Regions from separate parts of the Homo sapiens genome. Here all the other regions are reported to be linked to region 2. The links are microRNA targets in miRTarBase. Many come from high-throughput screens and were not tested one by one. Region 2 holds a microRNA gene; each other region holds the end of a gene's coding sequence.
What was found. The annotated mature microRNA hsa-miR-6499-3p reads AGCAGUGUUUGUUUUGCCCACA and lies in region 2 at 3,638-3,659, shown strand. An mRNA with a match to its seed (bases 2 to 7 or 8) in the 3' UTR can be bound and repressed. Matches are read on the target gene's strand: a 7mer-m8 pairs with bases 2 to 8, a 7mer-A1 pairs with bases 2 to 7 and ends in A, and an 8mer does both.

Region 1: the mRNA of KRABD2 is a reported target of hsa-miR-6499-3p. Seed matches in the 3' UTR shown: 7mer-A1 at 3,747-3,753, 7mer-m8 at 2,791-2,797, 7mer-A1 at 2,659-2,665, 7mer-A1 at 2,495-2,501, 7mer-A1 at 1,832-1,838, 7mer-A1 at 1,124-1,130 and 1 more.
Region 3: miRTarBase lists CNDP1 as a target of hsa-miR-6499-3p. Seed matches in the 3' UTR shown: 7mer-A1 at 978-984 and 7mer-A1 at 2,168-2,174.
Region 4: the mRNA of NDRG3 is a reported target of hsa-miR-6499-3p. Seed matches in the 3' UTR shown: 7mer-A1 at 1,281-1,287 and 7mer-A1 at 1,966-1,972.
Region 5: the mRNA of TMPRSS12 is a reported target of hsa-miR-6499-3p. The part of its 3' UTR that is shown has no 7-base or 8-base seed match.
Region 6: the mRNA of LRRC51 is a reported target of hsa-miR-6499-3p. Seed matches in the 3' UTR shown: 7mer-A1 at 523-529, 7mer-A1 at 693-699, 7mer-A1 at 853-859 and 7mer-A1 at 1,300-1,306.

The regions. Positions count from the first base shown.
Region 1 is chr17:8,364,943-8,370,119 of GRCh38, forward strand. It overlaps KRABD2 (KRAB domain containing 2), which reads right to left. Exons shown (of 2, transcript NM_001304947.3): 2 at 1-5,177. The coding sequence ends at 4,192. Among named protein-coding and RNA genes, the nearest start is that of KRABD2, 9.2 kb to the right of the region's middle.
Region 2 is chr5:151,520,570-151,525,746 of GRCh38, reverse strand. It overlaps MIR6499 (microRNA 6499), which reads left to right and starts at 3,599; the gene lies at 3,599-3,660. It overlaps FAT2 (FAT atypical cadherin 2), which reads left to right. Exons shown (of 24, transcript NM_001447.3): 19 at 3,661-4,471. It also overlaps a transcript of SLC36A1 not described here. RefSeq lists an enhancer at 3,594-3,763.
Region 3 is chr18:74,583,786-74,588,785 of GRCh38, forward strand. CNDP1 (carnosine dipeptidase 1) reads left to right here. Exons shown (of 12, transcript NM_032649.6): 12 at 711-3,427. The coding sequence ends at 777. Among named protein-coding and RNA genes, the nearest start is that of ZNF407-AS1, 12 kb to the right of the region's middle.
Region 4 is chr20:36,649,146-36,654,322 of GRCh38, reverse strand. NDRG3 (NDRG family member 3) reads left to right here. Exons shown (of 16, transcript NM_032013.4): 16 at 622-2,552. The coding sequence ends at 803. Among named protein-coding and RNA genes, the nearest start is that of SLA2, 5.5 kb to the right of the region's middle.
Region 5 is chr12:50,886,745-50,891,921 of GRCh38, forward strand. It overlaps TMPRSS12 (transmembrane serine protease 12), which reads left to right. Exons shown (of 5, transcript NM_182559.3): 5 at 518-1,140. The coding sequence ends at 769. Among named protein-coding and RNA genes, the nearest start is that of TMT1A, 36 kb to the right of the region's middle.
Region 6 is chr11:72,095,224-72,100,223 of GRCh38, forward strand. It overlaps LRRC51 (leucine rich repeat containing 51), which reads left to right. Exons shown (of 6, transcript NM_145309.6): 6 at 156-1,672. The coding sequence ends at 297. All of the region lies in intron 5 of LRTOMT (leucine rich transmembrane and O-methyltransferase domain containing), which reads left to right. LAMTOR1 (late endosomal/lysosomal adaptor, MAPK and MTOR activator 1) reads right to left here. Exons shown (of 5, transcript NM_017907.3): 2 at 3,888-4,033; 3 at 3,558-3,635; 4 at 3,066-3,192; 5 at 2,069-2,691. The coding sequence ends at 2,599. Among named protein-coding and RNA genes, the nearest start is that of LAMTOR1, 5.6 kb to the right of the region's middle.

The DNA.
Region 1 (5,177 bases), not on the chromosome of region 2:
AGAATCACCTGAACCCGGGAGGTGGAGGTTGTAGTGGGCCGAGATCACGCCATTGCACTCCAGCCTAGGCAACAAGAACGAAACTCTGTTTAGAAAAAAAAAAAATTAAAAACATTATGTGGACAAAATACATTTGCAAGCTGAGACTAGCCTGTGGCACACCGGTTAGTGACCTCTATTCCACATGCTGAAATAATGCAGGCCAGACTGGGTCCAGGAATCCACCTCTAACTCTTTCCCACTGCCAACATTAAGATGCAAAAGAGGAAGAGTGATGTGGCAGCTCCTGGAAACCCAGGCATCTCTGGGAAAGCAAGCAGTGTTATGGCTCATGTGTCACCTTTTACCCACAGGAGTTGATGATGTGGTTCCCGGTATGCCAAGTAACTAGGAGGGAGGAGGTCAGCACTGGGGAGGGGAAGGTAACATCCTCAGTCAAAGTTGGACCTCCCAGACCTGTTAGGCAGAGTTACAAAGAAAGACAATGGGTTGGAAGGAGGATGGAAACTGAGGTGCTGGCCAAGAACATAGCAAGATTTTGGCCCCCCAAAACAAGCTGGAAAGTGATGTCACTTCCTATGTAATAATAATGTGGCTTCCGTGGAAACCTTCCAACTTAACACTGCAGAATCTGAAAAGAAATGGCAATGAGCAGAGGTCTCCCACCCTCACGTGGAGGACAGGGTCCGCAAAGATGAGTCACATTGTAGAACTTCACTATTCAGAGAAAGCCCCTTCACATGCAGAATCTCGCTGGTCTCTCAGGACAATCCTGTGAGGTAGGCAGCACCAGGGGTGTTACTGCCCCTTACAGAAGAGGGAACTGGCATTAGTGATGATCAGAATGGGTCTTAGATAGCTCTGGGATGTGCAGGAAGGACACTTGTATGAAGAATAAAAGACCGGCCGGGCGAGTGGCTCACGCCTGTAATCCCAGCACTTTGGGAGGCCAAGACAGGCGGATCATGAGGTCAGGCATTCGAGACCAGCCTGGCCAACATAGTGAAACCCCATCTCTACTAAAAATACAAAAAATTAGCCGGGCGTGGTTGGCGGGCGCCTGTAATCCCAGCTACTTGGGAGGCTGAGGCAGGAGAATCGCTTTAACCTGGAAGGTGGAGGTTGCAGTGAGCCAAGATTGTGGCCACTGCACTCCAGCCCGGGCGACAGTGCGAGACTCCATCTCAAAAAAAAAATAATAAAATAAAAATAAAAGACTGCAGGCCCTTTCTCCTTCCCCGTGCCCATTTCTGTAGAATCATTTATTCATTAAATTCACTGAACACTTTCCATGGGCTGGGCACTCTTAGGCATTGGGAACATAGGAGTACACAGGTCCTGGGCACTGTCCTCCCCTGTGGCTGGGTCAGTCATCCTTACTCTGAATCATGGCCCAGACTGGCCTTGCCCTACTCCTCTCTAGGTAGAGCAGTGATCTCAGGCCAACTCTTGCATTTTGTTCCAGAAACCTTGATTATTTCCCTGACTATTGGTCACTTCCCGAAATGCACTGAACTGTGCCAGGAATAGGATATGTTTTTAAGTGCTTGAGACACAGACAAGTGGCAGACGCATACCCAAATTCCAACCATACTTTACTTCTGACCTAATTTTAATATATGTTTCATGCAGTTACACAATTATCTGTGCATAATGCTCTGAGAAAAGGGATGGCACATACAGTTTCTCCTGAAGCGGGAAACAGAGCCCAGTTGGTAAGGTGGCCAGTCTCTAGGGCATCTTAGATGAACCTTGTTTCTTCCTATTACTTTTCCTTCATCTACTTTTTTTTTTTCTGAGATAGAGCCTTGCTCTGTCGCCCAGGCTGGAGTGCAGTGGCATGATCTCGGCTCACTGCAACCTCTGCCTCCTAGGTTCAAGGGATCTTCCTACCTCAGGCTCCTGAGTAGCCAGGATTACAGGTGCATGCCACCGTGCCCGGCTAATACTTTGCATTTTTGTAAAGACGGGGTTTCACCATGTTGGCCAGGCGGGTCTCGAACCCCTGACCTCAAGTGATCGGCCGCCTAAGCCTCCAAAGTGCTGGGATTACAGGCATGAGCCACCGTGCCCAGCCTTCCTTCATCTACTTATTTTCCTGTGATGCCTCCATGTTTTAGAGTATGTGTCTGAGGGGCAGGAATATGTATTAGATATATCTAGGGCAGTCCCACCAGCTTTACATTCTTGAGACCTCATCCATCAGTTCTTGTTTTGCAGACATATACTTCTATTGACTACAATGAGAAGTGTGTCTCTTAAAAAGGTAAGTCTGGCCGCGCGTGGTGGCTCACGCCTGTAATCCCAGCACTTTGGGAGGCAGAGGCAGGTGGATCACGAGGTCAGGAGATCGAGACCATCCTGGCTAACATAGTGAAACCCCGTCTCTACTAAAAATACAAAAATTAGCTGGGTTCGTGGGGGTGCGTGCCTGTAGTCCCAGCTACTCAGGAGGCTGAGGCAGGAGAATCGCTTAAACCTGGGAGGCGGAGGCTGCAGTGAGCCCAGATCATGCCACTGCACTCCAGCCTGGGCGACAGAGTGAGATTCTGTCTCCAAAAAAAAAAAAAATTAGCCAGGTGTGGCAGTGCACGCCTGTAGTCCCAGCTACTGGGGAGGCTGAGGCAGGAGAATTGCTTGAACTGGGGAGGCAGAGGCTGCAGTGAGCCCAGATTGTGCCACTGCACTCCAGCCTCAGTGACAGAGCGAGACCCTGTCTCAAAAAAAAAAAAAAAAAACAAGTGAACAAAGGTCTCTGGTTTTCCTAGGCAGAGGACCCTGCGGCCTTCCGCAGTGTTTGTGTCCCTGGGTACTTGAGATTAGGGAGTGGTGATGACTCTTAAGGAGCATGCTGCCTTCAAGCATCTGTTTAACAAAGCACATCTTGCACCGCCCTTAATCCATTGTTTATCTGCTGACCTTCCCTCCACTATTGTCCTGTGACCCTGCCAAATCCCCCTCTGCAAGAAACACCCAAGAATGATCAATTAAAAAAAAAAAAAAAAAGTTAAGAGCAAAAAAAAAAAAAAAAAAGTCCTGGTTGGGTGTGGTGGCGTGTGCCTGTAATCCTAGCACTTTGGGAGGCCAATCCCTTGGGCCCAGGAGTTTGAGACCAGCCTGGGCAATATAAGGAGACCCTATCTCTAAAAAAATGAAAAAAAAAATAAATAAATAAGTTCAAGTTCAGGTCCCTAGTACCTGTGAATGTCACCTTACTTGGAAAGAGTATTCGCTGATCTAATTAAGGTAAGGATCTCGAGATGAGATCATCCTCATTAGAGTGGGCCCTAAATCCAGTGACATGGATTTGGTGTCCAGTGATGTCTTTACAAGAGACAGGAAAGAATACACACAGGTATTCCTGTGTATTTCAAGTCAAGTTGTATATGGTAGTCCTTGCTTAATAAGGGAAAAGTTCGGGTCTGTGTATTTATTCTTAGGGCTGCCATAAAAAATTATGGCCTTCTCAGGGGAGAAGGCCACATGAAGATAGAAGCAGAGACTGGACTTACACTGTCACAAGCCAAGGACTGCCAAGGATTGCCGATGGCCACTAGAGAAAGGAGAAAGGCATGGAATGGATTCTCCCCCAGAGCCTCCAGAAAGAACCTACCTTACTAACACTTTAATTTCAGACTTTGGGCCTCCAGAACTGTGAGACTCAATTTCTGTTAAGTCACCCATGTGGTGGTAATTTTTTTTTTTTTTTTTTGAGACAGAGTCTTGCTTTGTCACCCAGGCCGGAGTGCAGTGGCATGGTCTCGGCTCACTGCAACCTCTGCCTCCTGGGTTCAAGTGATTCTCCTGCCTCAGCCTCCTGGTTAGCTGGGATTACAGGCACACAGCTCCAAGCCTGGCTAATTTCTATATTTTCAGTAGAGACAGGGTTTCATCATGTTGGCCAGGCTAGTCTTGAACTCCTGATCTCAAGTGACCCGCCCACCTTGGCCTACCAAAGTGCTGGGATTACGGGCATGAGCGCTGCGCCCGGCCAGGTTGTGGTAATTTTTTATGGCAGCCCTAAGAATAAATACACAGACCTGAACTTTTGTCTTTTTGAGCAAGGACTGCCATGTACAACTTGACCTGAGAGTGCAGCCTTCAATCTTTTCCTCTGGGGCCTCTGGCAACAGTTCTCAGATGACTATGCTCAGAGAGACACCTGTGACTGTCCACCCAGCAGCCATCTGTTCACCAGCAGAGGAGACCGGAAGTCCCTTGTGAGGTGCTGGGTTCTGAAGCTTCAGGAGTGGGATCCATGTCATCGTCCATATCAGATCTGTCTGCTCCAATCTCAGCCCTTTCTTCCTGCCTGATCCAAAGGCTATTTTCTAGCTGTTCTTCAGCAATTTCTAGCTCTTCTTCCGTTTGTAAAGTAGCCACAGTTTCCCGGGGCAAGTTTGAGGAATATAGCCCAAATTTGGCTTTATAGCCAAACATTGCCTCAAATGGACTTTGCTGCAAGGAAACGTCGAAAGCCTGATTCCTCACCATCTGCATGAATCGGAGGCCTTTGGCCCAGTGACATGAGTGGTTACTCTGCATCCAGGTACTTATCATGTTCTTTACATCACGGCTTGCTCCTTCCAGGGAGCCCTGGCTTTGGCCAGGGTGGTACTTACCAGATACAATCTTTAGGTCTGGCCACAACTCATTGAGCTCATGAACAACCTGGTTTGTGAACTCAACGCCACTGTCAGAGTCTAACACACTGGGTGTACCAAGAATTGTGAAAATATCTAACAAGACACTGACCACCTCATGGGCCTGTTTGGTTCTTAATGGCCGTAAAATAATAAACTTGGTTGAGTGATCCTGGTAGTATAAAATGAACTTGAACTCACCATCGGCACTGGACTGCATGTCAAGTATTTCAACTTGGCATGTGGAGTCTATGTCCTTAAAAGTCATGGGCTTTGGTGCAAGGCCTCTCTTGGGTACTGGGTTCTTCTGGTGGCACTGTTTACACAGAGTCAGATATAAGACAATAACTTCTTTGGTGACATTCCCATATTTTCCTTGCAGCTCCTTGAGCATGCGTGTCCGCCCACCATGTCCAATACTGAGATGTGTATCATGAAGAATATCAAACAACTCTTCCTTATGTACATAATACCGTATTCGATCACGTTCTCCATGAGTAGCCTCTATCAGTTTCTCTGTGCCCTGTACAGAGA
Region 2 (5,177 bases):
TGGTGGTGACCATGGGGACAGTAAAGATGCTGGCAAAAGCCCCACCAGTGCTTCTGTCATTAGGGAAAAAATGTACAAAGCACTTAGGATGCATCAGGCACTGGGCTAGGTCCTTCTCAGGACTAAAGCCTCATAACACTCAGGGCAGGTATAGTTACCACCCCGCTTTACAGATGAGGAAACTGAGGAACACAGGGGATTTAAGTGACTGGCTTAAAGTAATACTGGTAATAAGTGGCAAAGGTGGGTTGCTTCAAACCCAAGCACTCTGACCCCAGACTCCAAATTCTTAATCCCTGCTCTGTGCCTGGGCAAAACACCCTCTGGCTGTAGCTCCTAGAGCTTAGCCAGAACAGCTCTCTGAACCTCAGGAGCTAAAACAACCTACCTCAGAGAACTGGCTTGGGGCTCAAGTGAGATATTGTATGCACATGTGTGTAGGGGATTCTGGTGGTGGTGTTATGGGTTTCATAGGAATTGCTAAAGAACAGTGGCCAAGATGGTGGTCTGATATCTCTCCCTCACTTTATTTCTCCAAATCTCTTTCCTAAATCTCAAGTCCAGTGGACCCTACTATTCTGTAAACTTATGGGCTGGGAATGATGTATTCATTCTTTCAGTCAGTCAGTCCATCTCTCGACAAGTATTTATTGAGCATCTACTACATGCGAGGCCATTTGCAAGCTGCTAGGAACATAGCAGAGGGTAAGGAGGGAATGATTCCTGTCTCCAGGGGCTTTCCATTGTAATCATGGAGATAAACAATAAACAGATAAAGAAAGAAATAACATCTTTACAAATGATGATAAGGAAGTAAAGTGATGAGAGACTCATAAGACAGGGGGACACACATTCAGAGGGAGGCTGCCCCCAGGAGGTGACATCTGAGCAGAGAGCCAAGCTGCCAACCATGTGAAAAGTGGGCAGGAGAGTCTTCCAGGCAGGAAGAGCAACATGAGTTGGGAAAGAGCCTGAAGTGGCTTGAGGTATGGCTGAGGTACTGAGAACATCATGAGCAGGGGTGGGAATGAGGCTGAGGAGATAGGCTGGGTAGATCATGTGGGCCTTGTGGCTTGGATGACTGTATTATCTGAGGTCCAAACTGTGATCTTTGAGAGTGAGAGAAGCACTGACTTAGTCCATTTGGGCTGCTACAACAGAACACCATAGGCTGGGTGGCTTAAAGGACAGAAATGTATTTCCCACAGTTCTGGAGGCTGGAAGTCCCAGATCGGGGTGCCAGCATGGCCAGGTTCTGGTGAGTGCCCTCTTCTGAATGGCAGACTGTCGGCTTCTCATTGTATCACATGGCCCTTCTCATAAGGGCCCTAATCCCATTCACAAGGGCTCCACCTCCAAATACTGTTACACTGGGGATTAGATTTTAACATATGAATTTTGAGGGGACACAAACATAGAGTCCAAAACAGGCACTAAAAATAATACTTGGTAGTAGCTGATTTACAACAGGTAAAAATCAAGACTGTCCTTGACAAACCAGGGCATCCAATCTTCTAAGTATAAGCCTTGGTAACACTTTTAGATTCTAATCTAAGTACAATGAGAGGTGGTTGGAGGGTTTCAGACGGAAAAGGGATCCTCTTTGTGTCTCAGGAAGCTCATTTTTCAAGCTCTATAGAGTGGGTGAGGGAGACCAGTGAGAAGTCATCCAAGCTGGAGATAGTGGGGCTGAGACCACGGAGTGATGGAGAAGATGCAGGAAGCGGAGAGATTTCGGACATATTTTGTATGTAAATTGATAGGAGTTGGTGGAGTGGATGTGCAGTTAGAAAGAACAGAGACGATTCAGGGGTGATTTCTAAATTGTTGGCTCCCATGAAGACTTCGGTGGTAGTGCATTTATGAGACTGGAAAGGCCCAGACGGGAAGGCAGGACAGGTTTATGGGCTAAACCGAAGCTCTGTTTTGCACATTATTTCCCAGTTGTTTGTGAGACATCCAAGCAGAGGTGTCCAGTGGGTAGCTGGGAATTGGAGTTGGCAGCTCAGAGGATTGGTAGATGGCCCTCAAAGCCAAGAGCATGGATGTGATTGCCTAGGGAGAGATGAGAGAGAATGGCTTCCTGACCTCTGTATTCTCAGACCCAGGCACACGTCCTGCCTAGACAGGAGCTTAGTAATGACTGGCATCATCACCATCAATTGCATTGGTCCCGTACTTCCACTTCCATGCACTGGGAGGCACCATAGGCCAGCAAAGAAAAACACAGGCTATAGACACAGATAGGTATTCAGATTCTGCTCAGGCCTTATCTGCTGCTGTATGACCTTGGGCAAGTTACTTCACCTCTTTGAGCCTCAGTTATATTTTTTGTAGGATGGGTGACTTGATAGTACCTATCTCATAAGAAGGATAAACTAGGATAATGTATTTACAGCATTATCATAGTTTATCTATGATAATGACTAGCATTGTACTCAGTTAATGTTAGCTATGTATTATATATAATCGGTAGTAGTAGTATTGTTGTAACTAATGTTAGCTATACATTATAATTAACAGTAGTGTTAATTATTATTGTTGCTATTAATATCTCTTCGGTGTTATGCATGACTTCCAGCAGTAGGTGTAATCTTATCAACTTTCTTGTACATTAAAAGTGTTGGAGTGCAGGTGAACAAGATATTACTACAGGGAAAATTGTGGAGACCCTCGTTGACAGCTGAGGAAGTGATAACATCACTGAGGAGAAGAAGGCAAGCCTGTCCTTTCTAAGTCAGGCAGGAAGTTGCAGGGATGTGTGGTGAAACATGAAAGGAAAATGCGTTTATGATTTACATTCTTTTCCCTACTTAAGTGAGGTCCTGTCACCCTCACGGCTTTTCACAGTTCTGACATTAACTGCAACCCTGCGCGTGCCAGCCCATCAGTGAGGTCAGGCCTGCTTCCCTGCCCACTTGCTCCAGCACCAGTGACCCCGTCTGTGCTGTTGAACACACCGCCTTCATTCCTACCCCAGGACCTTACACTTGCTGCTCCCTCTGTCTGTCGCCTCTTCTTCTCATCCCTCAGGACTCAAATGTCACTCCACAGAGACTCCTTCTCTTCTACCTGATCAAAGTTAGGTCTCTGTTTATTTCCTTCCCAGCATTTTATCCAAGTTATTTGGTAACTTATTTATTGTCTCTTTTCTCCTGGCCACAGCAGAAGACTTCGTTGACTGACTAGAAGGACAAATCCCGACTCCCACTCCAATCGCATAGCAAAAGGGAATCCCAAGGGGAATTTTCGTAGGCTGAGCAGGGTGCATGGTGCATCAGAATTGCTGAGACATCTGAGGGCGCCCTTGAGGACAGGGACAGAATGAGAAACTTCATGAGGAAGTTAGCCCAAGTCTATGGCTGGAGAGATTTAGGAAGAGGCTCAGAGAGATGTCACATGAGGAAACTGCATTGTTTTACTGCATGGTATAGGATGTAACTCCCTCCTTCAATCTCTACAAAACCTTCAGAAAATCTTTCTTTTCTGTCAGTGCTTTTGGAGTTAGGTTTTTTTTTTCTAAATGCAACAATGCGCTGAGCCAGCCCTCAAGTTGGGCGTGGGGCAGAGAAACGTAGCTCCACAAGGAGGCCCAGCCTCAGTCGGGCGCAAGAGCACTGCAGTTCTGTTGGGTGACAGCAGTGTTTGTTTTGCCCACAGGCGTCAGACAGTGGCATCCCTCCCCTCTCGTCTTTGACGTCTGTCCGTGTCCATGTCACAGAGCAGAGCCACTATGCACCTTCTGCTCTCCCACTGGAGATCTTCATCACTGTTGGAGAGGATGAGTTCCAGGGTGGCATGGTGGGTAAGATCCATGCCACAGACCGAGACCCCCAGGACACGCTGACCTATAGCCTGGCAGAAGAGGAGACCCTGGGCAGGCACTTCTCAGTGGGTGCGCCTGATGGCAAGATTATCGCCGCCCAGGGCCTGCCTCGTGGCCACTACTCGTTCAACGTCACGGTCAGCGATGGGACCTTCACCACGACTGCTGGGGTCCATGTGTACGTGTGGCATGTGGGGCAGGAGGCTCTGCAGCAGGCCATGTGGATGGGCTTCTACCAGCTCACCCCCGAGGAGCTGGTGAGTGACCACTGGCGGAACCTGCAGAGGTTCCTCAGCCATAAGCTGGACATCAAACGGGCTAACATTCACTTGGCCAGCCTCCAGCCTGCAGAGGCCGTGGCTGGTGTGGATGTGCTCCTGGTCTTTGAGGGGCATTCTGGAACCTTCTACGAGTTTCAGGAGCTAGCATCCATCATCACTCACTCAGCCAAGGAGATGGAGCATTCAGTGGGGGTTCAGATGCGGTCAGCTATGCCCATGGTGCCCTGCCAGGGGCCAACCTGCCAGGGTCAAATCTGCCATAACACAGTGCATCTGGACCCCAAGGTTGGGCCCACGTACAGCACCGCCAGGCTCAGCATCCTAACCCCGCGGCACCACCTGCAGAGGAGCTGCTCCTGCAATGGTAAGTACTACATCTTCCCTAGGGACGAGCAGCACTGCTGGGCTCAGCCCGCCTGACTCTAAGCATGGAGATTCCACTGAGGCTCTGTGGGAGAGTTCAGGGAAGTTTTAATAAGCCCAAAGGCCACCAATCACCATAAGACGGCTAGTGGCCTCACAAAATCTAGTTATGGAATAATACCCAATTCTCAGCTCCCTTTCGAGATTTAGAAAATAACAGTAAGACTACAATATGTGGTTTAACATCATGGCTAAGAGCATAGGCTGTGGCTTCAGTCTTCATGGGTTAAAATCCCAGCTCTACCCCTTACTAACCAGGCGACTTTAGGAAAATTAACCTCTCTGTGCCTTTGAGCTGGGCTGCTGTAGGAATTACATCAGTACTATGTATCAAGTGCTTGCTTAGAACAGTGCCTGACATATAGAAAGTGGTCAATACATGTGAGTTACTAATACTGCTACTATTATTACCATAGTCTGGTGGTTATAAGCTCAAGGCTTAGACTCAGACAGCTCAGGTTCAAACCCTAGCTCCATCAGTCACTAGCTGTGTAACTTTGGGTGTATTGTTAAAACCCTCTGAGCTTTTTAGTTTCCCATCTATAAAATAGTCAAAATAAATACATCTGCCTCCTGGAGTTGGGTTCGGGGGGGAAATTACGTAAGAGTTATAAAAGCACTTAACCCATGGCTGGCCCACAATAAGC
Region 3 (5,000 bases), not on the chromosome of region 2:
CTGTTCAATTTATGTGAGAATGGAAAATCGTCCAGACTGGGAGCTTAAAGAACAGACATTCATTCCTCACAGTTCTGGAGCCTGGATGCCCTAGATCAGGTGCCAGGCCATTTGGTTCCTGGTGGGTATGGGCTGTCTTCCTGGCCGTCCCTGCGATGGTGGGGTTAGGTGGTTCTGGTGTCTCTCTTTTTATAAGAGCACCAGACCCATTGGATTAGGACCCCCATTTTAACCTCATTTAACCTTTATTATCTCCTCCAGGCCCTGTCTCCAAATACAGACACACTGGGGGGTTAGGGGTTCAACACAGGACTTTGAGGAAACACAAATATTTAGTGCATAACAAAAAAGGCTATTAGGAATGTTTGCTTTATGCGCTACTGGCAGATACTACAAGATCTCCTAAGCATCCCAGACTACTGAGAAACAAGAAATTGTTTGACCCTGATATCCATATCAGTGATAAGAAATCAAGGAAAATTCACTTTTGGATTTGAGTCTAGGACTGATTCTCATCTTCTTAATAATAATAATGCAATTTTCACATGGAACTTACTAAGTGCTTTTCATACTGGGATCTCAGAAGTATGTTAAATAATTTAAATGGAATTTATAACATCAAATCTTCCTGTCTAAATGACAGAATATTTTTCCTCCTTCATTTGAATGGAAATTGTAACAAAATTTCTCTTTGTTTTTCCTCTTCTTAGGTGGAACTACATAGAGGGAACCAAATTATTTGCTGCCTTTTTCTTAGAGATGGCCCAGCTCCATTAATCACAAGAACCTTCTAGTCTGATCTGATCCACTGACAGATTCACCTCCCCCACATCCCTAGACAGGGATGGAATGTAAATATCCAGAGAATTTGGGTCTAGTATAGTACATTTTCCCTTCCATTTAAAATGTCTTGGGATATCTGGATCAGTAATAAAATATTTCAAAGGCACAGATGTTGGAAATGGTTTAAGGTCCCCCACTGCACACCTTCCTCAAGTCATAGCTGCTTGCAGCAACTTGATTTCCCCAAGTCCTGTGCAATAGCCCCAGGATTGGATTCCTTCAAACCTTTTAGCATATCTCCAACCTTGCAATTTGATTGGCATAATCACTCCAGTTTGCTTTCTAGGTCCTCAAGTGCTCGTGACACATAATCATTCCATCCAATGATCGCCTTTGCTTTACCACTCTTTCCTTTTATCTTATTAATAAAAATGTTGGTCTCCACCACTGACTACAATGATTTCCCCATGGATTCATTTTCAGAGGAGTTACTAAGGCATGGTACTATATTAACCTCTTGCCTCCCCTTCATTTATTTTTTCCCACTTCTTGAAAAGTTCCGAAGCTGAAATGATCAATATTCATACCCATATGCCATTTGGGAGTCCTTGTGCAAAGATGAGTATTTTTTTTTTTATTCCAAGCTTCTTTACCTTTCCTGAGATCGATGCCACCTTGTCAGCTTCTCTGCCTCCCGTTCCTTCTTCCTGTCCCATCAGAAAAGGCCCACTCTCTCTCTATCCAACATCTGTGCACAGGTTGCACCAGAGCAGAATTTATCCTGATAGAATTTCTCTCACCCCATTGAAGTTTTACTCAATGACAACATCTAAATTGCTCAAAGCTTTTAATAGCATCAGTTTTAGATAGAGAACTAATCAACCCTGACATCAGTAACACACGCTAAATTTAAAGCCATCAGCTAATGCTGCATTCATTAATCATTTTAGTTAACCATCATGTTTGGCTTGATTGGATTTGACGGTGTAAACAACAAAAAAAGACAGTCATTTTTCTACAGTTGAGTGTATATAAACAAAATCAATCTTTATGAATTTATTATTTAAATCACATTAATGGAGAATCATTTAGGGGCTTATTAAAATTTTTTTCTATTATGACTCCAAATAAAAACAAAGCAGAGGGCCAGGCGCGGTGGCTCATGCCCATAATCCCAGCACTTTCGGAGGCCGAGGTGGGCGGATCACCTGAGGTCGGGAGTTCGAGATCAGCCTGGCTAACATGGTGAAACCCTGTCTCTACTGAATATACAAAATTAACTGGGCATGGTGGTGCATGCCTGTAGTCCCAGCTACTCGGGAGGCTGAGGCAGGAGAATCGCTTGAACCCAGGAGGCGGAAGTTGCAGTGAACTGGGATCATGCCACTGCACTCCAGCCTGGGCGACAGAGTGAGACTCCGTCTCCAAAAAAAAAAAAAAAAAAAAAAAAAGCAGAACACATTTGCGTTCAACTTTTTTCCATCACTCTGTTGGTTCTTGAGATGTCAGTGTCAGTTTAAAAACGTGCTGTACCACCTTTAAAAGGACTGGAGCAGGCAGGCAGTGATTCAGTTCACCTTGACTCTAGTCATAGAAGTGGACCCAACTGAGAGCTCAACCTAGTTGTGGGCATTTGTGAAGGATTCCAGTTAGTGTTTTCTTTGGAAGCAGGAGGCTTCAAGCCATCACATCTCCAATTCTATAGAATATCAAGTCATCGTTAAAGAACAGCAGCAGGTGTTTGATATTTTGTGCTATTAAGTGTAGTTTGCGCTCATCTAATTATGCAGAGTTTCGTGGTGTTTCTCGATTTTGTTGAACCTACCTGATGCATTTGGCACTGTAGATAAGGACTAACAGTAAGAGAGATTTAGAGTCTTCATGTTAGTCCATTAACATAAGTTTATTATAAAATACACTGTAAGCATTTCTGGCTAATGTACCATCAGATTTAAGAAGTTACCCAACAATATGTATTCGCTGATCTTCATTCCTGCTGAATCTGAGACCAGCAGTGTCTCAATTATTACGTTGCTGCCAGGAGAGAAGGGGAGGAGAATGAATAGTTATGGAAGTTGTAGAATCTAGGATATTCCAACCCTGGATTGCCAGAGTTCAGAGTCCATGTTTTTCTGTCACCCAGGGTCACGACTGGTCTCCCCAGCTCTTCCCTCCTGTTTTTCCACCCAATTCTAAGCCCTGTGGTGATCCAGACCCTACCCTGACGTGGGAGTCAGAAAGGAGTATCTTCCAAGCTCCTTGTACTCAAAGGGATAAAAGAAAGCTACTCAGTTGTTATTCAGATATATTAACCAGCCATATGGAGGCAAAAAAGGGAGAAATTTAAATATTTGTTTTTTAACATTTTAATGATGAAATATATGCACTTGGACAAAAATGATCACCCAGTAAAGTTGGGCGTACATTGTGGCATGCCCATCAGGGGGACTTTGTTGTATTGGAGGAGGGCAATGTATCTGGCTTTGTTAGTAGACGTAGCGCATTAAAGCGTAACTATTGTGATAAGTTTAGGGGTTAGGAATATCATTTGAGTTTGGTAGATGCTTTTCTGGAAAACAATGAGGCTGGGAATGTTTCTGGCTTTATGTTGTATTCATAAAAATAAAATGTACTGGCTTGGAAACTTCGGTGATTGTGTGCCAGACAGTGCGAGAGCCCTGGTCAGTGACACTGTTCCTTTGCACTTGCTGCTGGGAGAAGGGAGTGAGCGAGGGCTCCCCCGAGGGCTTGCTCCCGGACACTTCTCACTGTTCACACTCATGCTGGGAACTCCGTGGCCTTTGTACTCGCCAGATGCCCATGACTCCCAACCCAGCCCCCTCTTCCGAGAATCAGGCCCACCCATCTTCCTGCCCATTTCACATCTGAAACTCTACTCACCTAGTATGAAAACTTCCATCCATTCCTCGAGACTGTTACCCCTCTGGTGCTCCCTACCTTGGTAAGTGGACCATCGGCTAGTTGATAGCAGAGCCCTGCATCGTCTTCCACACTTCCCTCTCTTTCCAATGCAATTCAATATCAGGGCCAGTCCAGCCCGTTTCTCAAAAGCCACCACTTCCTTCTAGTTCCACTGTCACCTCGCATAGCTCATAAGCCAACACTCTTCAGTTTTGCTGGGTTATTGCAGAGGCCCCTAACCAGCCACTGCTTACACGACAGCCCCTCTCACTGTACATGCCATGCGGCAACTGGCTTGTCCCTCTCACCCTGCTTAAAGCTCTCAACTGGCGACATGGTCTGAGGATGAAGTCAGACATCCCAAGAAGGTCTACAAGTCCTGCTCAACCTGCTCTCTGCTTACTCTTCTGGCTTGCTCTGCCCTCACTAGATACACCCTGACAACCCCATCCTTCAAATCCTCCCAGTTTCGCAAACATCCAAGAGCTTCCCTGCCTCAGAGCCTTCTCAGAGTCTCTCCCTCCTCCAGCAACACCCTTACAACCCCCTTGGTGTCACTAATACCCCTCCCACCCACCCTCCACATTATTCTTCAAATCTCAGCTTAGTCGTAATTTTTCAGGGAAGCTTTTTCTTATTCCTCATGAGTAAGTGAGGTGTCCCTATTATGCTACCATAGTCTCCATAGTTCCTTTGTCGCATTTATTATCATTGCCATTAAATACTTAGTCAAGTACCACATACTGACAATTTGGCCAACAACAAACATATATGACAGTGGTCCCATAAGATTACAATACCATATTATTACTGTACCTTTTTCTATGTTTACCTACATAGATACTTACTACTGTGTTGCAACTGCCTACAGTATTCAGTACAGTAACACACTGCACAGGTTTATAGCCTAGGAACAATAGGCCACACCATGCTGCCTAGGCGTGTAGTAGGCTATGCCATCTAGGCTTGTGTGGGTACACTCTAGGGTGGCTGAAGATGTCCAGACACGCATTTCTCAGTATCCCTGTTAAGTGATGCATGATTGTATTTCTACAATTTGAAAACTGCCAGCTCTCCTGCTAGACTGTAACATCTTTACAGGCAGAGATTGTCTGTTTTGTCTATCCTGATGTCTTGAAGGTTCCAGGCATACTGTATGTCATTAGGAAACATTTAAGTGCTGAAATGAATGATTTCAACATTTGTATCATCCATTCTCATGCTGCAATGCACACTCATGATTTCTGTGCATCTCTCTCCCTCCTATTAAACTTCACGCTGTATAATATTAGCGA
Region 4 (5,177 bases), not on the chromosome of region 2:
GAAGGACCTTAGAGTCAAGCAGTGGCAGAACAGGAGTCTGAGTTAAACACCTGCTTCTCTGTCCCTGGCAACCTGTACCTCATCCCTGTGTTGAGGTCAGCTCCAAGCCAATCTGCCCTCCCCTTCACCTGCACCATCCTACAAATCTCCTCCCTGGTAGCAAGGTAGCCTGTGGACACGGATGGTAGTCTCGTTGTATCGGGCTTGCACTGTGTTTGTGAAACACCTTCATACTTGTGTGTGTGTCTTTCTTTTCTTTTGGTTTAGTCTTGCATGCACTGTAGGTTTTGGTTACCTGTTTGGGTTCCCAAAGCCTCCATTCTGTCACTGTCTGAATGGTGTGGGCATAGTTAAGAGGCTATACTCTGGATTTAGGGTTTCCCCTTGTTCTGCGGTGACTACAATCAGCTGAGATTCCAACCAGATCTAAAGGATTAAAGTGGCCTCACATATCGCCACTCACCTAGAGCAAATGATACAAAATGGGGATGGCTATATCTTGTCCTGGGTGTCATGGTAAATGAGTCGGAAAAGCTAAACATAAAGACTTTGATGAGACTCCTAGGTTAGCTGGGCTTAACCGGGGCTTCATCTTCTAGTCCCCTTGGTTCTCTGTTACAGTACCATCTGCCAGCATGACTCGGCTCGCCCGATCACGAACCCACTCAACCTCGAGTAGCCTCGGCTCTGGAGAAAGTCCCTTCAGCCGGTCTGTCACCAGCAATCAGTCAGATGGAACTCAAGAATCCTGTGAGTCCCCTGATGTCCTGGACAGACACCAGACCATGGAGGTGTCCTGCTAAGCAGATGCTCCTCCCCTGGACCATTGCAAGTCCATCCTTCAAATGACCACTCCATAATATAACATTTCATCCAGTAAACTGGCCTCTACTATCTTTAACTCATGCATGGCCACTGAACCTCTCTCTAGTAGCCTGGATTTATCATTCTCTCTGCCTGCCCACCCCCTTTTTTGTATAGCCCAAGAACCACTTCCATGCCATACTGTAACATTCCAACATCTTTAGCTGATCAGATCTCTCCATATCCTCTCTTGCCAGCTTTTTCCCGTGCTCCCCCAACTATGTATCAGATAAGATTCTTTGATCCCGACTCTGTGTGTGCGAGCACGCGTGTCTGTGTTTGTGTGTGCATAGTTCTGTGGTTTTAGACACGCTTTCTTGTAGTGCTTCTGCAAAAAACAAAAAAGGGACTTATTTTGCATTCTCAATGGTGTTTTTAAGGGAATTAGGCAGAACAGATTTCTAGGTTGGGTAGGCCACTGCATTCTCTTTTGTTTGCAAATTGGTCAACAAAATTTGCAAAGTGATTTCAGGAGAGAGCAGCTTTGAGGAATGTGGAAAATCATAATTGCCGTCTGGACCATTGATTGATTGTGACCAGTAGCAGAAGGGTGCCTGTTACATAGAGAGGCTCCTTCTGTCCAAATGAATTTCTGTATACTCTTCTATAAATAAAAGGGAGGAATATATTCTGCTGGAAGCCCATGAACCATCGCTGAGGTTCTGATACAACATAGAGTTTTTTCCAAGGAGTGAATGTGGTTTAATTACTGGACTCTCTTAGCACAGGAAGGTGGAAACAAAATGCCAGGCCTCTGCTCTGAAGAGCAAAACTGCTGTCGCTGCAGTATCTGATACCAGACATCCACATATCCACAAGAAGTGCCTCTTAGGTCTGTGACAGAGAGTGTGTCTCCATTCCTCAGTTCCCAGAAAGGGGAGAGGTTTGGCCTAAAAAGCATGTAGATGGGGGAGAAATGGGTGGGGGGAGAGGAACAGCCATTAACACAGTATCATGTTTAACAAGTATAGCCTTGATTTCAGTAGATGTAATGGAAGCCAAATTAAATTGATACAGAACCCATTTCTCAGAGTCTTTTTTTTTTTTTGAGACAGAGTCTCGCTGTTACCCAGGCTGGAGTGCAATGGCGCAAACTTGGCTCACTGCAACCTCTGCCCCCTGGGTTCAAGCGATTCTCCTGCCTCAGCCTCCCGAGTAGCTGAGACTACAGGCACCTGCCACCATACCCAGCTAAGTTATGTATTTTTAGTAGAGATGGAGTTTCACCATGTTGGCCAGGCTGGTCTCAAACTCCTGACCTCAGGTGATCCACCTGCCTCAGCCTCCCAAAGTGCTGGGATTACAGGCATGAGTCATTGCTCCCAGCCATTAGAAAGATTGTTAATCCTATGAACTCCCTTTTGTAGGAGAGAAAGGGCCAATCTGTAGGGGTAGCCCTGTCCAGGTAAAGTTGTTTTCAGCCTCATGTCTACTGTTAGGTGAGGGAGTCACAGCCAGACAGAGAGTATTGCTGGAGGGTGAGAGAATTGTGGAGACCAACTACCACATAGCAAGAGCCCAGCTCTTGGGAGCATTGAGATGTAAGCTCAGGGTTACACAGTTCCAAATCTTGGGAAGGGGCTTTTCAGACAGACTGTTTGCTTTCTGCTGAGATAAGGAATGCATCACTCTGCCAGAGTATGACTTTTTACAGATTATTAAATAAAGCTGCATATGTCTCATTGTTACCTGATTGCTGGTGTTATTTCTTTCAAGCCATTCACTGGGGTTCAGGGCAGGACCGAGTTGCTGTATGCTGGTTCTGTGTTGCCATTTTCACATGTGATTGCTTATCCACCAAGCGACACTGTCCATTTATAGGAGGAAATGAAGACTGATGATAAATCATTTGCCCAAGGTCATGCAGCCAATAAGTCCAGCCAGGATCAAATCCCAGGGAATTATGCAGAATTCTATCTGATGTGTCTGTATTTCCCTCAAGCCAAAAATCGTGAGAAGCCTGACAGTGTTGTTTGTGATGGAGGAGGAGAAGCTGAGGTCTTGAGAAGGTGGTCCACGTCACAGCTCCACCACCTGTGTGGGATTGCTGGGTTCCACCTCTCATTTTAATAATCTGCAACCACTTGTCTTCTAAGAGACCAGCTTGTGTTTCTCCAGAAATGGCTATATTTGTACCCATCAAGAATAATTTCAGACCGAGTGCAGTGGCTCACGCCTGTAATCCCAACACTCTGGGAGGCCAAGGTGGGCGGATCACCTGAGGTCAGGAGTTAAAGACCAGCCTGGCCAACATGGTGAAACCCTGTTTCTACTAAAAATACAAAAATTAGCCAGGCATGGTGGTATGTGCCTGTAATCCCAGCTACTTGGAAGGCTGAGGCAGGAGAATCACTTGAACCCGGGAGGTGGAGTTTGCAGTGAGCCAAGATCACACCACTGCACTCTAGCCTGGGCTACAGAGCGAGACTGTCTCAAAAAAAAAAAAAAAAAAAAAAGCCAGGCATGGTGGCTCACGCCTGTAATCCCAGCACTTTGGGAGGCCAAGGCGGGCGGATCACTGGAGGTCAGGAGTTCGAGACCAGCCTGACCAATGTGATAAAACCCTGTCTCTACTAAAAATACAAAAAAAAAAAAAAAAATTAGTCGAGCGTGGTGGCATGCACCTGTAATCCCGCTACTCGGGAGGCTGAGACAGGAGAATCGCTTGAACCCAGGAGGTGGAGATTGCAGTGAGCCAAGATTGCACCATTGCATTCCAGCCTGGGTAACAAGAGTAAAACTCCGTCTCCAGAAAAAAAAAAAAAAAAAAAAAAAAAGAATAATTTCAGAAGACCACCATCTCAGATGAGTTTTCAGTAACCCGGGGCAAGTGCCAGCAAAAGTGCATGTGGATTGCTACATCTGTGACAGGCACTCGTAAAAAATGACATGAACCACCGGGCGCGGTGGCTCACGCCAGTAATCCCAGCACTTTGGGAGGCTGAGGTGGGCAGATCACGAGGTCGGGAGATCGAGACCATCCTGGCTAACACAGTGAAACCCCATCTCTACTAAAAATACAAAAAATTCGTCGGGCGTGGTGGTGGGCACCTGTAGTCCTAGCTACTCAGGAGGCTGAGGCAGGAGAATGGCGTGAACCCGGGAGGCGGAGCTAGCAGAGAGCGGAGATAGCGCTACTGCACTCCAGCCTGTGCGACAGAGAAAGACTCTTGTCTCAAAAAAAAAAAAAAAAAAGACATGCCCATTCTGGCAGAGGAGTTGAAACAAATGCATATGAACAGATAAAGATTACCAGGCTGAAGCCTTACAATGCAGGCCAATGCTCCACAGAATGCTGACATGGGAAGGAACTGATCTGATGGCCTCAGTTGCCTTTTTTTTTGTTTTTTGTTTGGTTATGTTTTGTTCTGAGATGGAGTCTCGCTCTGTCGCCCAGGCTGGAGTGCAGTGGCATGATATCCACTCACTGCAACCTCCTCCTCCTAGGTTCAAGCAATTCTCCTGTCTCAGCCTTCTGAGTAGCTGGGACTACAAGCATGTGCCACCACGCCCAGCTAATTTTTAGTAGAGATGGGGTTTCGCCATGTTGACCAGGCTGGTCTGGAACTCCTGACTTCAAGTGATCTGCCCGCCTCAGCCTCCCAAAGTGCTGGAATTACAGGCATGAGCCCCTGCGCTGGGCCCTTTTTTTTTTTTTTTTTTTTTTTTTTTTTGAAACAGTGTCTCACTTTGTCACCCAAGCTGGATGGCAGTGGTGTAATCATAGCTCACTGCAGCCTCAAACTTCTGGGCTCAAGCCATCCTCCCACTTCAGCCTCTTGAGGAGCAGGGACTACAGGCATGCACCACCATGCCTGGCTAATTTTTTATTTTTTGTAGAGACAGCATATCACGTTGTTGCCTAGGCTAGACTTGAACTCCTGACCTCAAGTGATCTTGCCTCAGCCTCCCAAAATGCTAGGGTTACAGGTGTGGGAATCAGCCCTTTATTGAGCATCTATATATAGGCCAGGCCCTTAATGCCTTCCTATAAATTTCCTTCTATTGATCCAGTGAGATACATGCTATTCCCATTTTATAGATGCAGAAACAGGTCCAGAGATAACTAGCTTGTAAATGGTCACAAAACTAGTAAGTGGCTATATGGGAAACAGTTTCCTCCACTACACTCAACACTTCCAACACTGCTGTGACCAAATGTGTGAGCTTTTTTCCCATATACCAACCAGTTCTCCAACACCCCAGACACTGAGTAGGTGTCCTAAATTACCACACCAGCTTCCTGGAGTTAGTACAGACCCTACAGGTTAAGGGTTCAGGCCCACAAGACCGCCCCCTGCTTTAGATGCCAG
Region 5 (5,177 bases), not on the chromosome of region 2:
CATTTTCCTGCACTAGCTATTGTCAACACTTAGAAACTTGTCTTCTATTGCAAGATGCCAGTTTACTCCTCTCCCTGGCAAGCAAACCACACACGTGCCTAAAAGAATCCTTCATACATCTTAAAGTTATCCTTTCCACACGCAGTATTCAGCAAGAGAATATTCTAATAATAGACAGTTTTGACAATATTTTGCACACTTCCTAAATTATATTTCTCCTAAGTAATTATATTTAAAAATCCAAACAATTTGATTTATAGTATTCTGGCTCAAAACCAGGCAGATGAGAAATTTATCTACCAGCTATATGGTTCCTCCAAATACCTGGGTAAAATTGAATTCCTCCTGTTTGAGTTGGAAGTTTAAGCTCAAAATCTAGTGATCTTTATAAATTGGGGGTATATTGAAAATGTGTATTTATATAAATGTATGTTTGATGTAAATAATTTATTCCAGTGTTACTGTTGCTTGAAGAATACTAGAAGTAACAAACACTATTTTGGGACTTTTTTGACAGGGTGACAGTGGGGGACCATTAATGTGCTACTTACCAGAATATAAAAGATTTTTTGTAATGGGAATTACCAGTTACGGACATGGCTGTGGTCGAAGAGGTTTTCCTGGTGTCTATATTGGGCCATCCTTCTACCAAAAGTGGCTGACAGAGCATTTCTTCCATGCAAGCACTCAAGGCATACTTACTATAAATATTTTACGTGGCCAGATCCTCATAGCTTTATGTTTTGTCATCTTACTAGCAACAACATAAAGAAATTCTGAAGGCTTTCATATCTTTATTTTGCATTGTGTCCCTTTCTATGTTCTATATAATGAACATCATTTATTCTTCTAGCAATTAATTGCCTACATTAGAGATTTCATGTGAACATTTTATGGGCTATAAGTATTGTGACAGATATACAATTGTAATTTTGGCACTGAATCACATGTCTCCTTGAAATATCTTGATTATTTTATAATCATAATTCTGTATCTGGAATACTCATAGAGTTTGTACAAAATATTCAGTTAAACATATATTTTATGTGTATAAATGCCAAATAATAGTTTATAATTAAAATGAAAGCTGTCATTTGGTTAAATTAATAAAAATTCTTTCTTAGATTTTATTCTAAAAAATGTTTGTATGATTTTTTTAAATTATAATCTTGTTTCCAATTCTCAAAGTATATTTAGAGAAACAAGTATTTATCTGTTATTTAAATTCTAATTAAAACCATTTATTTAATATCAGTACTTCATTTCCTCTGCCAAGAGAGCTATGGTATACACACCCCCAAATAATTTACTTTTTATTTAGAAATTTATGACTTTTTTTCAGGAGTATAACCTACTTTCTAAACTTTATTTTCTTGAAGCCCATGCTAAAATTTTGTATCCCATGGGGCCTCTGAATTAACTGTGAGCAGCAACTGGAAAGCATGCCGGGTAAAAGAGGGACGCCAACCTGGGATAAACTTTATGATAACTAATGTATAAAATGAATTAAAAGAAACAAAAGAAAATGAGGGCCAGGCATGGTGGCTCTCACCTGTAATCCCAGCACTTTGGGAGGCCGAGGTGGGCAGAATCACTTAGGTCAGGAGTTCAAGATCAGCTTGGCCAACATGGTGAAACCCTGTCTCTACTATAAATACAAAAATTAGCGAGGCATGGTGGTGCATGCCTGTAATCCCAGCTACTTGGGAGGCTGAGGCACGAGAATTGCTTGAACCCGAGAGGTGGAGGTTGCAGTGAGCCAAGATTGCACCACTGCAGCTTGGGCGACAGAGCTGGACTCTGTATCATACACACACAAAAAATGAAACAAAAGAAAATGTTGATTGAATTATATCTACTATTAGTCAACTCTCATTTCCCTTGAACTTAGGAGAATCCATTTAGCAAAGGAGAAATAGTTATTTTCTTATCCTTCTTTTTACATTCAACATCTAAAACCAAGTGTTCTTTGTTGTTGTTTTGTGTCAACCTAATTTCAGGATTTAAATGAAATTAAGCATGAATATCCCATGTATTAATTTCTTTCATTACTGGTTTGACACTGGGATTATTGTTTATTGGTTTAATATTGGGTTAATGTTGTTTAATATTAACATTTAATATTGGGTTAATATTGCTAATATTGGGATATTGTTTATTGGTTTAATATTGGGGTTATCTATCCCACTCAAGGAATATATGACTATGCTTTTTATAGACGAAGCAACACTGATGGAATGTTGGTTGTTCTTTCTTGAAAGAGCTCCTAGTTTATCCATCGACAAGGTCTCACAGATGGTAATGCTTATATAGCAATTAGCATGATGCACTAGTCTTTTCCTATTTATACTACCTGAATATCACTCAGATTCACTTGAAAGCTCTGAATGTTAATAAAAAGAAATTCTTCTAAAATGTACTGCCAGAATTAGAGGAGAAACCTTTGCTTTTCACTTTAAAGGCATCTTCTAATTACTCTTTAGGTTTACGTTTCTTATCTATGTATTTATTTTGGAGGTGGAGTCTCTCTGTTGCCCAGGCTAGAGTGCAATGGCACAATCATTGCTCCCTGCAGCTTCAATCTCCTGGGCTCAAGCAACCCTCCCACCCCAGCCTCCTGCATAGCTGAGACTACAGGTGTACCCCACCACATCCAACTGTTTTTGCATTTTTTGTAGAGACAGGGTTTTACCATGCTGCCTAGGCTGATCTTGAACTCCTGGGCTCAAGTGATCTGCCCACCTCAGCCTCCCAAAGTGCTGGGATTACAGGGGTGAGCCACCACTCCCAGCCTAGGTTTACAATTCTATTCTTTTTTTTTTTTTTCCTCCTTTTAATTCTAATCTCATGACAGATTAGATTACATTTCTGATCGGGGAGAGCTATTATCTGCTATTTATCTTTTTGCCCAGCTTAGTTTACTATGTCAGCCAGCTGGAATCCAATTATAAAATTTCTCTCTATCACAAGAAACTACCAGAGTATAAACTTTGGAAATCTAAGACAGACTTTGTTTCAACTTTTGTTTTAACATTGTGTCCTTTTTTTTTTTTTTTTTTTTTTTAAGAGGCTCTGTCACTCAGGCTGCCTAGGGTGCTGTGGCATGATCATAGCTCACTCCTGGGCTCAAGAAATCCTCTGGCCTCAGCCTCCCAAGTAGCTAGGACTATAGGGCCCAGACCACCATGCTCAACTAATTTTTAAATTTTTCATAGAGATGGAGTCTCACTATATTGACCAGGATGGTCTTAAACTTCTGGCCTCCAGCCATCCACCCACCTCAGCCTCCCAAGGTACTGGAATAACATACATGCACCAAGTTGCTTGGCCTTTGTTTCCATTTTCACTCTGTTATTTAGTATCTATAAAAGTTTAGATAATTATTAATACCTATTTACAACATTGTTGTGATGACTACAAAAGTTGAGTATATGAAATTCTTAACATTTGAAAGATGCCAGTAACAGGTTTCTATTATTATATTAATATCCCATCTATCATTCACACACTCTTTCTCATTACAAAGATCACTATCCTATTGGATGTCTCATATATCATCCCCCAAAATTACTGAAACAAAGGATCCTTTTCTGCTTATAAATTCAAATTTTAAAATATGCTATTTTAAAAATAATTTTCATAATTCCCCAAATATTATATCCTTATTATTTAAACTGAGAAAGGGCCAAGCATGGTGGCTCATGCCTATAATCCCAGCACTTTGGGAGGCCAAGGCAGACAGATAGCTTGAGCCCAGGAGTTTGAGACTCCTGGGTGAAACCTCGTCTCTACAAAAAATGCAAAAATTAGTCAGGCATGTTGGCATGCGCCTGTAGTCCTATCTACCTGGGAGGCTGAGGTAGGAGAATCACCTGAGCCCAGGAGTTCAAGGCTGCAGTGAGCCGTGATCACACCACTACACTCCAGCCTGGGCAACAGAGTGAGAACCTGTCTCAAAAATAAATAAATACATAAATAAAATTGAGAAAGCACCGACAAGTAGAAAGAAAATCATCAGCTGAGCGTGATGGCTTACACCTGTAATCCTTGGGAGGCTGAGGTGGGGACAGATTGCTTGAGCCCAGGAGTTCGAGACCAGCCTGGGAAACATGGCAAAACCCCATCTCTACAAAAAGAATTAAATTAGCCAGGTGTGGTGGTATGCCTGTAGTCCCAGTTACTGCGGAGGCGGAGGTGGGAGGATGCTTGAGCCCAGGAGGTAGAGGATGCAGTGAGCTGAGATCATGCCACTGCACTCCAGCCTGGGTGACAGAGCCAGACCCTGTCTCAGAAGAATGAAAAGAAAATCATCCATAACCCTATTATGTAAAGACAGCTGCCATGAAATCCTACCTTTTTCAGTTACTATAATGGGTATTTTTACAAACCTTTATTAAACATTATTTTACCCCAACTATTTTGAAAAATTTCAAACCTACTGAAAGTTGAAAAATAGTACTATGATTACCTGTATATACTTTACCTTTTTCCCCCAAATATTAACATTTTGCCGTTTACACTCATACTCTCTCTCTCCAAACACAAACACACACAGACTTACACAGACATATTATACACACACAAACTCTCTCTCTTTTGTTTTCTGGTTGAAAAATTTGAAAGTAAATTGCTGGCATCATGTTACTTCATCCCTAATACTTCAGCATGTATCTCCTAAGAACAGTGACATAATCACAACACCATCATCACACCAAAGAAATTTAACACAGATTTGTTCTATTTTATAAATTGTGCACTCATTTCTTTGGTTTATTAATCTATTGCATAGATATTCCATTATTTTATATTGTTTCATTCTGATTATAAAAGTACAGTATATGTTCACTATAAAGAAAAAGCACAACTATTACAGAAACTATTTGGGCTGCTATAACAAAATATAATAAAATGCTGGCTTATAAACAACAGAAATTTATTTCTCACAGTTCTGGAAGCTGGGCAAGGCGCCAGCTATTTCGGTGTCTTCTGAGGTCCCACTTTCACCTTCACAGAAGGCATCTTCAAACTGTGTCCTCACATGGCAAAAGGGGCCAGGCCACTCTCTGGAGCCACTTTATAAAGGAACACTAACCCCATTCACGAGGGCTCCATTCTCATAATGAAATCACCTCCCAAAGGCCTCACCTCCTAATAGCATCACATTGATGATTAGCTTC
Region 6 (5,000 bases), not on the chromosome of region 2:
AGCATTCCTTGCTCTCAGTCAGGATAAACCTAATCTTTCCCAAACTATGCTCAAGTCCCTCCATTCCTTGCAGTCAGGGAAGACAACAGCAACTAGTGGAGGGGGAAGGGGATTCTGGTGGGGGTGCTGGCCCCCAGCCTAAGTCTTCCCCACAGGCAATATGTGCTGTGCACCCTGTCCCGTATCACCACGTTCGACTTCAGTGGGGTCACCAAAGCAGACCGCACCACAGCTGAAGTCTGGAAACGCATGAACATCAAGCCCAAGAAGGCCTGGACCAAGCAGAATACACTTTGAGGCTCCCACGACCCTAGTAGTCCTAAAGGCCTAAGCATAGACAGCATGGTTTGACAATAAATAATTTGAGCTGTTGAGCAGATGAGAAGTCACTTACACCTTGTAGAGATGTTCTCTAACTCAGGCAACTGCAAGTAGCTCTAGCCTTTTCTTTTCTTTTTTTTTTTTTTGAGACGGAGTCTCACTCTGTCACACAGGCTGGAGTGCAGTGGCACGATCTTGGCTCACTGCAACCTCAGCCTCCCAGGTTCAAGAGATTCTCCTGCCTCAGCCTCCCCAGTAGCTGTGATTAAAGGCGCCTGCCACCATGACTGGCTAATTTTGTTGTTGTTGTTGTTGTTTTGAGACGGTTTCACTCGTCACCCCAGCTGGAGTGCAGTGGTGCGATCTCAGCTCACTGCAACCTCCGCCTGCTGGGTTCAAGCGATTCTCCTGCCTCAGCCTCCTGAGTAGCTGGGATTACAGGCGCCTGCTACCACATCCAGCTAATTTTTTTTTTTGAGACGGAGTCTCGCTCTGTCACCCAGGCTGGAGTGCAGTGGCACGATCTCGGCTCACTGCAAACTCCGCCTTCCAGGTTCACGCCATTCTCCTGCCTCAGCCTCCCAAGTAGCTGGGACTATAGGCACCTACTACCACGCCTGGCTAATTTTTTGTATTTTTAGTAGAGACGGGGTTTCACCATGTTAGCCAGGATGGTCTCCATCTCCTGACCTTGTGATCCACCCACCTCGGCTTCCCCCAGCTAATTTTTTATATTTTAGTAGAGACAAGGTTTCGCCATGTTGGCCAGGCTGGTCTTGAACTCCTGACCTCAGGTGATCCGTCTGCTTTGGCCTCCCAAAGTGCTGGGATTAGAAGCGTGAGCCACCACGCCCAGCCTTTTTTTGTATTTTTAGTAGAGATGGGGTTTCGCCATGTTGGCCAGGCTGGTCTCAAACTCCTGACCTCAGGTGATCTGCCCACCTCAGCCTCCCAAAGTGCTAGGATTACAGGATAAGCCACTGCACCTGGCCAGCTCTAGTCTTATTTTGCTGAAAAAGGGAGGCAATTGAGGGAAAGGCCTGCTGGCCTGGGACACTGGAGACGTGGGTTTACCACACAGCCTTGGGAAATTTATCTAACTCTCTGGGCCCCTTTGTACTTTTCAGCTTAGAGATTTGGGGGTTAAAGTAGATCAGTAATTTCCAAACTCTTCACAGAGTACCAGGGTCTGTAGAGATGCCTCACAGGCCTCCATGACAGGCCAAGAAGATGGCCTATGATCTCTGAAACCAGCCCCCACTTCAATCAGATCAAAGTAATTCCATTCTGTTTTATATGCTGGGATTCTGCTTAAGATTTCATTTGATAAAAAGAATCTTCTGCTTAAAAACATTTGCTTGCTGACTCCATATTAGGTATTCCCAGAAGAGCCTGGTCTGCTTTCTCTCTCCACCCCCCAACCCGCCATGTCTCCCTTCACCCCCAGGGGCTGTTGGTAATTCCATTGAGTCTGAGGCAGGGCCCCCAAGAATCAAAGCTGCCTCAGATTCAGGTCTGTTCAGCTTTGACAGTGTTCCCATCATCACTGGACAAGGGACAAGAACAGTCTCATCCAGTCTGAGGTTAGCCCAAGCCAGGTCTCAGCTAAGAGCTGACACCCTAAACCCTTGTCTCTTGGGTTCATCTTCAATATCCCTGGAAGATGTCCCCTTCCCCCCATCTTACTCTCATAGACCTAAGTAATCAAAAGTAGAATGGGTAGAACAGAGGGGCCAGAACCAGCACATGGATGAATATACTTCCTTTATCGAGGGTGACAAACCAAAACAAAAAAAGACCAAACATGTAAAAACCCAGGGTTCTAGAAATACAAACTCAATTCATTCAAATTCAAGCTCATCCAGACCCTGGTCACAAACCCTAGTGAGGTGCATGTGAGCACCAAGTCAGGGAGAGGGGGCAGGAGTGACTCTGAGGCCAACAGAGAGGGTGGGAAGGGGATCTCCCTAGGTCCCCTGGTGATCACCCCCCACCCAAACTGGTATCTCCACATTCTCAATGACTATGAAGACATACCAGGCTCTGTCCTTTTGGCCCCCACCCCATCCCTGGCCAGAGCTTCAAAGGCCAGTCCCAAAAGGTTCTACCCTCACTTGCTCAGGCTTCTAGCCTTCCTCTTCTCCTCCTTCTTCACATTTTTCTCTGTGATTAGTAGCAGGTTAGGGTACTGTATAAGCCGCAGTGAGGCTGGGGGCCAAGGGGGTGGGGTAGAGATGGGATGAAGAGAGGAGAAGAGCTGTCCAAGGACCCCTCTCTTCATGGGATCCCAAACTGTACAACCAGCTCCTCTTTTGCGTCCACACGGATCTGAGAAAGTGCACTGTAGGCATAAGCAGCTATCCTGGAGACCTGAGACAGAGAGGGGCCGGGGAGGAGAGGAACAGAGACAGGTGAGGAGGGCAATCAGGAAAAATGGGGAGGGGAGATTAGATGGTGATGGAGAAGGAGGGAATGAAGGGGAACAGGAAGGCAAAGAGAAAGACAGGGATGGGAGAGACAGAAGGAAAAGAACAAAGGGGAGTGAAACAATAAAGGTTGCAGGAAGGAGATAGGAAAGACATAAAAAGTTAAGAGAACGAGGTGGGAGGGAGCTGGGGCCTACAAGGCTACCAGGCTCCCTAACTCCACCTTCCCTACCTCCTCTGAGGCAGAGTGGGTGAACCCTCTGCCATACCCTGGGCAGTGTGAGAAGGGTGGGCAGGGGCAGGTGAGGGGTGTCTCACCTGCTGCAAATCAGAGAACGGGATGGGCTCACTGGCCAGCACTTGGTGGGGCTGGCTGGTAAGAGACGGCAGCGGTGGCAGCTTCTTCCAATGGGTCAGGCTGCTGCTCAGCACAGCCAAGCGGGTGCTGACCAAGAGAGAGGGGGTGGGGGTAGGCAGTTAAGCCACAGTCTGCCCTGCCCAGCCCAGGTAAGCCTCATCCCCTCAGGCCAGAGAAGCAGGGTGTCGAGGAGGGGTATCTGGGAGGGAAGGTCTCAGCTCATCACAGACTCAATCTAGGCCCATCTCCCTTGGCCTCAGCGCCCTCAAGAGTGTCACAGGGTAAACAGGGCTGACATGAATAACTACTGAAGCACCCAAGTGATCTGTGGTCAGTCTCCAGGGCTGCACCAAATGAGAAGCTTGGACTAGGGGCCAGGCTCCAAAGCTGGAACAGTGATGGAGGGTGGGAGCCCAAGTAGCCTGAGGGACCCACGCTGGCCAGGTGCTCACCTGTACTGCCTGGCACGGTCCATGTACTCATGCTGCTCCATGCCCTGTGAGTCTGCAGCAGACACATCAATGATGTTGCTATGGGGAGAGGAGACAGAGATGACATGACAGGTGCTTCCGAGAAGGACAAACAGGACTCAGTGCCAGGTACCAACTCCAGGGCTATCTGACACCAGTTTCCCTCCTGCCTACTGGAGCAGGGCTGGACATGGAGGCACCTCTCCCCAGTGACCTTGTCCCATCCCCCATGTCCTGAGCCTGGCTCCTTCTATCCTAGCCTTTAATATGGATAGAGGAGCTCTGACCCAGGCCTGGTCCTCTGACACTTACCTGGCTGTCTTGGCAAGGATGGAAGAGAGCAGGGCCTGCTCATCAGTGCGAGCGGAAGGCAGGCTGTGGTAGTTGGGCTCGGCTCCATTGAGAGCTTTGGTAGGGGGGCTGCTAGGGTCCAGCAGCAGCTTCCGCTCCTCTCGGTCCTAGAAGTGGTCATGGGAGAGAAGTCAGCCCCAGGACCCGTAGATCCTGCCTTTCACGGGTGCTACCCTTAGCCCAGCTCTGACCTTAAACACCAAAAATGTTTCTATAAGGAATATCTAAAGTGCCCAGCTTTATGGAATGCCAGATAAGACTCAGTTCCTGCCTATCCTTGGGAGCTCAACTGAGTTGGTGTTCTAGGATAAATGAGAGTGGAACCAGGCAGTCCTAGAGGCCCTGAAAAAATGGACAGAGGCACAAAGCAGGTAGTCAGCAACAGCCCTGGAGCTTGAAAAACATTCTAGGACCTGGCAAAGAAAGGATACTAGAGGCTGGAAGACAGTGGAGCTGAGACATAGCAAGCACTGGGATCTAAAGGGGAAATCAGTGCAAGTCAAGAGCCCAAGAACAGCCTTCCTCATCCCCTAGGACCAGGCCTTCCCCAGCAAAGCTGTTCGCTTCCAAGATGGAAGCCCTGGCGAGTCCAGACAAAGCCCTAGGCCCCAAGAGAAAGCAAGCCCAACCTCTCCATGGCCATTTCTCAAATTATGTCAGGGCAGGAATCCCAGCCCAGCTCTGGGTCACACAGTACAAGTGTGTTCCCTTCTTGAAGGCAGGTCCCTTCGAAGGTGTTCACCCTCCTGTGCTCTGGTGCTCTTTTTGTACGTGACTCCCAGAACCAAACTGAGTGTACATGGTGTATCCTGATCTGAGCAGTACAGCTGTAGCCATGTATGGTGATTCACACCAGTAATCCCAACACTTTGGGAGCCCAAGGCAGAAGGATTGCTTGAGTCCAGGAGTTTGAGACCAGCCTGGGCAACAAAGCAAGACCTCGTCTTTGCAAAAAAAAAAAATTAGCTGGACTTGGTAGTGTGAGCCCTGCAGTCCCACCTACTTGGGAGGCTGAAGTGCAACGACTGTATGAACCCAGGGTTTGAGGCTGCAGTGAGCTAGGACTGTGCCACT